Linked DNA regions of Homo sapiens: region 2 is linked to region 1. Evidence: fine-mapped expression QTL. A gene starts in region 1. The other region holds a variant in brackets. All regions are shown on one strand. Distances are from middle to middle.

Region 1 (4,394 bases):
TTGACAAAATCAAAAGTCCTCTGCACTACCCATCGCTCGGTCACCGAGCTATGTGACTTTAGTGAGGTCTCAATCTTTTTGGCTGTCAGATTCACTGGAAAAAAATGGAGAAAACTGGTGTTACCAAACAAAATCTATCAGTAAACTCAAGCTTTACTTGGTAGCTCTCCAAGGTAGTTGCGATCACCTTTTGCGTTTTGAGGTAATTTCAGGGAAGGGAGAACACTTGTTAGTGGCAATAACTTTTCCGGCCCCTTTCCTCATCCTCCCCACCTCACACAGAAACTTCATTGTCAGAAACCCTTAAGCATAATTTCTACCATCTCACTGGCTGCAAACGATTCCATCCTAAAGCAGTAAAGACAAAGGTATTTTCCTCCAGAAAACGTGGGGGAAGAGGCTGATTGGCTTTGTAGTGGTCGTTTGGGGGTAGGACAGTGATGGGAAAGAAATGACCCCCTAAGTCCCTTCCATCTACAAAAACTAGAGAACGTTTTGTGTTAAGCTGACCTCATTAAGGGAATCACGTATAAAGGAGGTTCCTCTTATCTACTCAAGGTGTGTTTGTGTGCTTTTCCTAAACATTTTTATCTAGTTGAGGATTCAAAACACAACCCGCAAAGGAAATGCTCTTTGAAAATTAAAAAAAAAAAAAAAGTGAACATGAAAAACTGCAAACACGTGGTTAAAAAAAGAAAGACAATCTCTCGACAGTCTCCAGTAATGCAGAAAAAGATTTCACTGACAAAATTAAATAGTTCATGACCACCACAAACACCTTCCGCTGGTTCACAGTAACCCCTGACATTCTCCAAGGAGAAAAATTCAGGGATAATGAGGTCATAATCCCAGCGGAGAGGAGACGAGCTTGAAAACACCTTTACATTCCGGAACGCACGGAAAAGTTCCAGGCTCTCAAAGCGTGCGCGACACCAACACCCCCCGACGCCCACACCCACGCGCGCTCGGTGCCCAGTTCCCCGGTGCCCAATTCCCCAGCGTCCACAGAAATAACACCAAGCTCCCGGTGGGTGAAAGAGTTACCGTAAGCCAGAGGCTGCAACCTCAAATACCCACTTTCTGGGCGATTCTCCAACGAGGCACTCAACCTCCTAGCGTGTCCGCCTTGGGGGGGATTCCTCGCTTATCCCCTTTCTTAGCACACAGGCGCCCCGATTTACTCTCCCCCTCTGATATTAAGGTCATGTTCACGCCGGCGGGCGTCGCTTCCCGCCTCCCACTTCAAAGGCCCGGGCGCATGCCGCACGCCGCGCTCGAACCACCACAAAGGAGCCAGTCGCAGCCGTGCCCCCCGGACCTCCAACCGGGGACTGCCGGGGAGCGGCCTCGAAGCCCGAGGCCGCCACGGGAGACGCGGAGGGGGCCGGGCCGAGCGGGCGGAGAGGCCACGCTCCACTTCCGAAGTGCCCCAGGCTCGGACAGTGCCCACCTCCGCGGCGGGAGCCGGCCGGGCAGGGAGGCGGGTCAGCGGCCTGGGGGAGGATAGGCGTCCGCAGCGTGCGTCCCGGAGTTGGGGTCGCGGCGGGCGGGGAACCGCCACGTCGCCATCTGGCTGGCCCGCGGGACGGCCCCGCCGCCCGGGCCTTGGGAGCTTGCCTGGGAACAGGGAAGGCGAGGGGGCCGCGCTCCAGCCTCACCTCCTCGCGCCTCGGCCCCGACCGCCGCCATCTTGTAGAGCTTTCATTCAAACTGGCGCGGTCTGACGGGATAGCTCAGCTGGCCCGACGCCCCGCCCCTGGCCGGCCCGCGCGGGACTTGGGGGCCGGGGCTTGTTGGGGGACGGAACCCGCACGGCGTCCTGACGTCACTGGCGGCCGACCCCCCGCCGCGGCGGCCAGCGCGCCTGCGCCCCAAAGCTAGGCCCGGCCCCAAGCGCGAGGAGCGGGGCGGGGCGAGCGCGCGTGCTCCCGGATCCTCGGCAGTGTCCGGCGCCCCCTTCCCTTCGCCAGGCCCGTTTGGCGCCTTCACTCGGGAAGACGTCGGCCAGGACTTTGCGCTTTGGAGACGTCTTACTTCGGCAGCACTCGCACACTGCGAGATCCGACACGGGCAGCGGGGACCTAGGGAGCCGGGGACGCTGCCTGTCGGGTACGGTTCCGCAGCTACCGCAGCCCCGTGGGCCATGGTTAGTCTCCCCCCGACACCGCTCCCTCTAGAGCTCCGGGCTTCGGAAGCGGCTGCACGTGGGCATGGCTGGAGAGGTTCCGCTGGCTTGGGGCAGTCGCCGGGATTCCGACTGGTTGGTGTGGGGTGTGGCCTGTGCTATCCAGCTCCCAGCTGATCCTAATGTGCGGCACAGCGGAAACCACCGGTCCACATCAGTGCTTCTCACTTAAAGGGGCTTACGAATCGTCGGGGGTGGGGGAGCTGGACTTGGAATTTTTTAAGAGATGAGGTCTCACTCTGTCACCCAGGCTGGAGTGCAGTGGCGCGATTACGGCTCACTGCAGACTAGACCTCCTGGGCTCAACTTTAATGTAAATTGGGATTGGGTAGGTCTGTAAGGGGACCCGAGCTCCCCTCCCATGTTGTTGCCAAGCTCCTGAGCTCGGCCTGGTGGCGGGTGGGGGCCGGGAGGAGAAGGACACGTTAGTAAGGAAGCTGCAGGACGACTCCAGGGGCCTCCCACCTGGTCTCCACCCCCCTCCCCCACCCATTCTTGACGCTGCATCCATGATTGTTCTAAACAACCTAAAGCAGAAATCTTAGAGCAAATAACGAAAACTGGCAGAAGGCCATTTGATATCTCCTTAAAAAATTCATGTAAAAAATTACATAAACGTTTCAAAGCAGTATGTATAAATTTGAAATACTGGAAATGAACGCAGACCATTAAAGGAATAGTTAATTATTTGATTCCATTATGAAATACTGTCTAGCCGTCTTAAAAAGGTGTTCATGAAGCTTTTAGTATTCAGCAAAACCAAAACAAATCCCCCTGAAATATAGTTTTAACTATGGAAGAAAAAAATGTATAGGAAAATAACGAAATAGCCTTTTCGGAGTGATTTTCTTTTTAACTTCTCGTTTTTAAATATTTAATCATTTTCTACGATGGGAAACACCACTTCCTCACACACACTCATGCTCCCAGACTTTATTTAGCTACAAACGGCATCATAATACAAATACTGTTCTGCAGTCCGTGTGTGTTTCAATGCAACTGCATTTCTCAGACATGTTTCTAAGATTTGAGTCCTTAGTAAATTTTGTATTCCATATCTCATTACCTTGAGATAAGGAATAAAAGGCCCTGTCCAACCCTGTCACCTGGAAGAGCATCCAGGCCCTTTAAGGCTTAGTCTATCTAGGATTATGCCTTCAGACTTGGATACAGCCTCCCGTCCTAACCGGCCCCTGTATTCATTACCTCTCCTGTATGTTTTCAGAGCCCACCAAGGAGCGGCCATCGCTACTCACTGGCCACTCTTGAATCCTTTTTGGCTCCTTTTCCTCAGTCCAACCTGGGTTCCTCAGAGAAGAGACTGTAGTCCTGGGACTGCATTTCTTTTCCGCCCTCTCCCTATGTGACTGCCCCAATTCCCATGGATTTAAATAGCATCTTGACACACAAGATGCCTCACTTATCGTCTCCGGCCCTGGCCTCTGCCTGAATTCCAGGCTAGAATATCCACAGTGCGTAATGGACATATGCCCTTAGGTGTTGCACAAACATCTCAAATTGAACATATCCGGAAAAATACACTTCTGAACTTCGTAGCATTCAGAATAAAACTCAAACCTCCAGATGGCCGGCAGGGCCTCCAGTGATGGGAATCCTGTCTCACCTCACTTGGTGCCACTCTCCCCTTTACTCATTTTCCTGGCCTTTCCCCGGCCCCACTTACCCAGAAATCTTTTACTGTGCATCTCCTATGTGCCAGGCACCTGATAGGTGCTGGGAATATAGCAGTGGATGAGAAAGAAAAAAGACCCAGTCCTCATGGAGCTGACTTCCTAGTGACAGGAGCAGCGGATAAAGCAAATCACTGAAGGCAGCTGGAAATTACTTTCCGGTTAAGAGGACAGGCTCCTTCCCCTCCTCACATGGCTACCTTCAGATCACTTGGGTCTCAGCTTAAACACCACCTATTGACAGAGGCCTCGCATGTTACCTCATTCTTTAGCCCTACTTTGCATCCTTAAAAAGCACTCATCAAAATTTGCAATTATCTTGTCGGGTTTTTGTTCTTTGGTCTTGATTCATAATGAATGCATCGCACTATTTTGTAAATCCAGTGTTTCGTTTCGTGTCTTGAATCCCATCCATTCCAGCGCATAGATGAGGCCCTGTCTGTTCAACATTCATCACCGTGTTTACTATCTAGAGCAGCAATTCTCAAAGTATGGTAATTGGGACCCGAAGACTCTTC
Region 2 (4,333 bases), 21 kb before region 1:
AAAAAAAAAAAAAAAGACAAGTAGTACAGTATTAAGATGCTATAATAAATAAATCAGTTTCCAAAATGGAAGTTCTGAAAATTTACGATGTAGAACCATTCCTCAGCTGAAGCTCAGGCAGACCTGGGTTCTAGTATTAGCTGTTGGATTAGCTTTGTACCTTAGGATGACAAACTTAGTGCCTCAACTTTTCATCTTTAGTATTAGGTTTGGTTCAAATATCTAAGGTCTGTTCCTAGTCTGATTTGATTCTTCATATTGAAACTGACACCAATGAAACTGTACTTGAAAAGCATACCTTTCATTTGATAATCAAAAGTCAGCTCTTCTCCAGCATTTATGGTTCTTGTGGAAAACAATGCTATTCGGGGAAGACGAGTATCGAGGTTATCAATGAAAACATTGAACACCTGAAGATTTGGGTCACACTAAAAAGGAACATTAGAACCCATTTAAGTACAAACGGTGTAAACAAGCCCTTCTACATGCCATATAAAATGTTTACTTTCCTAGAGATTTAGTTTAAGTTCCACTGGAAATTAAGTTGCTTATTGCTTAGAGGTCTTTGAGGCATGCACATTTAAAAAGATTTTTTTCCCTTATAAAAACTTCAGACAAGTATAAAATAGAGAAAATAAGAAATCCCTATGTATCCACTATACAGCTTCAACAATTAGTAACATGCTTGCCAATCTTATTCCTCTAGTCCCAACTTTTTTTTTTCCTGGAGAATTTCAATACAAATCCCAGATAACATTATTATTTCACTGGTAACTATTTCAGTAAGGCATACACTTTAAAATAACTAGAACAACTGTGTTTAAAAAATCAAATCTGCACTACAGAACTCAAATTTTACACTGCATGGAGTTTCACTGCTTGAATTTTTGGTCCAAACTCTTCAATGTTTTGAGAATACTACAGTAAACTTACGGAATATGCAAGAAAAAAGATGTAGTGAGTCATACTAAGGAATCAAAACTGTTTGATGGCCCTGGATAGAATATCTCTATTTTGAGAGTATCTCGAATTTATCATTAAGAAAAAAATTCTTCAATGTTTAATCAACAAACAAGGGCCCAGAAGCTCTCTGCTAATCATACACCAATTTCTTACTATGAAATCCATCAGAAGTTTAACATGGTCTACTTCCTTTATATGTTCAGCTATATAACTTTGTGGCACACACTGTCCTTATTATCCACAAAATGCAGATAATGTCACCCTAACAAGCCTAATGTTTTACTGTCCACTTGCTACTTAGTAGGTAACCCAAAATTATTAACTTCCCTAATTTTTGGAAATTATTTAGAGTCCAGAATTCTGCAGTTAAGTGCCAGCTGTATTCTAAGAGCTTTCAGACATTAAAAGGTAAGGAAGAATACTAATTTATAATTTAGAAAAATAGCCCTACATAAATACTCTACAAATCTTTAAATTTTATAAAAAGTTAACATGTTTACATTTTAAGAAAATACATTTACCTTCAGTTGTACATCCTAAAATGTAGTCGTGTTAACTTCCATTAAGATACAGTTCTGTGTAATTCTTGGACATTTTACCTCTTAATTGCTCTGCTCATTGTAATATGAAAGTAATACCTACCGTACAAAGTTACTAGAAAGTTTAAATGAAGTAACATATGTAAAGACTCTTGTAAAATACACCCTATTAATATTTGGTAGGCACCTCAATGTTTAATTTTCCTAATACAGCAATAATACCATAACTTAACAGAAGCTGCCCTCCTTATAAAATACATATTTTGGAAATGTTAAAAGGATATGTAGTTTAAAGGGAATTATTCTTTAGCTATGGAAACTAGTACTAGGTTGAATTGTTAGTCGTGTCTAAAATTTACGTATGTCTTCTTACGCTGTGATTCACAAAATGAGACACATTGCC[G/A]TATCGAGCCGCATCCACTGTGAATTCATCAGACTCATAGTCCAGATCAAAGAGATACGTGATTCCCTTGTTGTCATAGAACTGTCCTCGTCTTTCAGCTTCTTCACTTGTGATTACCTAAACAGAAAAAACTGTAAGTATATTACGTAGCTACTGAACCAAAGAAGCATTCATCTACCTATCTACTAATATGCGAATACCTACAAATATTTAAAAAGTAAGAAATTCAGGTGTCATCAAAGCAAACATTCACACAAACTAAGACTCAGATGCAAAGAGGTGGGAAAATGAGGGGAAGAAAAATGATAATGCAAAAGACTGATGACCTTTTTTTTTTAAACAGGGTCTCACTCTGTCACTCAGGCTAGAATGCGGTGGTGCCATCATGACTCCCTGTATCCTTTAACTCCTGGGATCAAGCGATCTTCCTGCCTCAGCCTCCTGACTAGCTGGATCACAGGTGCATACCGCCATGCCCAGCTAATGATTTAGTTTTTATAGAGATGTGGGGTCTCACTATGTTGCCCACACTGGTCTGGAACTCCTGGGCTCAAGTGAGCCTCCAGCCTTGACCTCCCCAAGTGCTGGGATTAACTGTAACTGGTTGATTTATGACTTTTTAAACAGGATTTGAGCAGTACATTGGAACACTGCATTACTTTCATTATAATTAGGATGTTCAAAAAGCTATACAACTATAGCTCTCTACAGGACACAACTGAATGTTAAGGACTAAATCTGCAAGTATATGCTCTAAATATGATCCAGGCACATTTTTCCTATAACTTATATATATGCAGTTACAAATGGAAAATTGTTAAAAATACAGGGGAGAAGCTATGTTAACTTTGGAATGGAAGGTTTTGTTTTTGTAGAATATGTTATTTTCATGCAATTCTGTAAGTCTAAGATCGTCATCTACAGTTCTGCTCTTAAGAACACAAGTTTTATGACACGCTCGGCTTAAGAAACCAAAAGTGTCTAAAGTACTTTATGTTACCAACCAAATTTGGCTGCTGCACTCATTAAGAATGCAACTTAAAAAATTTTGGTTAACAAAAAGAGTAATTTGATTATACAAGATCTTGTATACTGAATAATTTATAATAATCTACCACTGTCTAAAAGTGTAAGAATCAAAACAGCCATCTAATTTAGTTTCAGAATTATAGATGAATACAGATAATTATAGGTGACCCAATTCCAACTAAAAAATCCAGAGTTGACAACTCCAGATATGTAGCCATGCTTGTGTCTTTCTAGTCACAGCTCAACCTACCCTTCAGTTTGAAGCAGTGTGGTGCCATGGTGAAGACTACTGATTTTAGAGCTTTGAATCTCGGTTCTTATTACTATGTGACCTGTGTGACCTTGGGCAAGGTACTCAATTTCTCTACAATAATGGACATAACAGTACTACTTCTCAAAAAAAAAAAAAAAAAAAAAAAAAAAAGAAACAGTACTACCTCACTGAGTTTTGGAGAGGATTAGTGAATTAATACATCAAGTGCTTAGAATAGTATGTGACACACGGCAAATACTTTTTACATTTATATATATATATACATATATATGATTTGTATACAAATAAATTTGCTAGTATTTGTATGGTAGTTTTGAGAATGGTCTTCACAGTTCAAAAGTAAGTTACAGATTATGGATGCAATAAATGCTTGTGTATATTTTACAAAACTCATAAATATAGTATCTTTCATGTTGATCCAAAATAGAGTTCTGCCAACTACATTTAATCATATTTGGTCAAATAGATGAAGTAAATTAAAACTTTCAAGTTTCAAAGCAGCATGTGTTACATCTGAGTTTCTTCTTAGGACTTTTGGGTAAAAACAGTTGTCATATTTTAAATTTTACAAATCCTAGGTTTGACTAGTAGGAATGTGTATTTGTTGAAAGATGACTATATCAATTTGTTTTAACGTATATTTTTTATTCATATAAAAGTTTTTTATTTCTAAATATGCCAGTGAACTCTTCTCCTAAATCTGAATAAATTTCTACATATCTGCAAATGAAAATATCAAAATGTACCAAGTATCTCTTAAAGAGATAAAAAGGTAATTTTCCAAAAGTATAAACCTTGCATGTCCATCATTTACTACGTGGCAAATGAAACATACCTCTCCAACATATTCCATGACAAAACTCATTCTTTTAATCTTCACAAGGGTCTTTACACCCCAGCCACGTCCATTGCTAGTTCGAAAGATGCAAAGCGAATACTGTGTGCCTTTTTGTACAATCCTATTGGGACAATCAGGACCACACTGACACCTTGAGTTGCATTCATAGATGGGAGTACCAGGTGGGATTTTAATTTGTTGGTTTTTATTATAAGCCAAAAGAACTCCAGCTTCAGCAGGACAACATTTTTGAAAGAAGCAATCTGTGCATGAACAACCAAAGGTAG

Direction of the effects. Alleles are on the strand shown, and positions count from the first base shown. SD is a standard deviation of normalised expression in the study named.
For the expression in thyroid of the gene that starts at base 1,712 in region 1, allele A in region 2 goes with a lower level than allele G (small effect, 0.28 SD a copy in GTEx).

The links. PIP is the estimated chance that this variant, and not a neighbour inherited with it, causes the effect. A credible set is the group of variants that fine-mapping cannot tell apart.
Region 2: its variant is the best candidate, but not a certain one, in a credible set for the expression of SUV39H2 in thyroid (GTEx, PIP 0.53).

What each region holds. Positions count from the first base shown.
Region 1 is chr10:14,876,184-14,880,577 of GRCh38, reverse strand. It overlaps SUV39H2 (SUV39H2 histone lysine methyltransferase), which reads right to left and starts at 1,712. Exons shown (of 6, transcript NM_001193424.2): 1 at 1,659-1,712. The coding sequence starts at 1,689. It overlaps SUV39H2-DT (SUV39H2 divergent transcript), which reads left to right and starts at 1,919. Exons shown (of 1, transcript NR_186426.1): 1 at 1,919-4,255. RefSeq lists a silencer at 1,239-1,978.
Region 2 is chr10:14,897,228-14,901,560 of GRCh38, reverse strand. SUV39H2 (SUV39H2 histone lysine methyltransferase) reads right to left here. Exons shown (of 6, transcript NM_001193424.2): 3 at 4,044-4,333; 4 at 1,876-2,022; 5 at 299-428. It also overlaps a transcript of DCLRE1C not described here. Among named protein-coding and RNA genes, the nearest start is that of SUV39H2, 21 kb to the right of the region's middle. The variant G/A (reference allele first, on the strand shown) is at 1,906.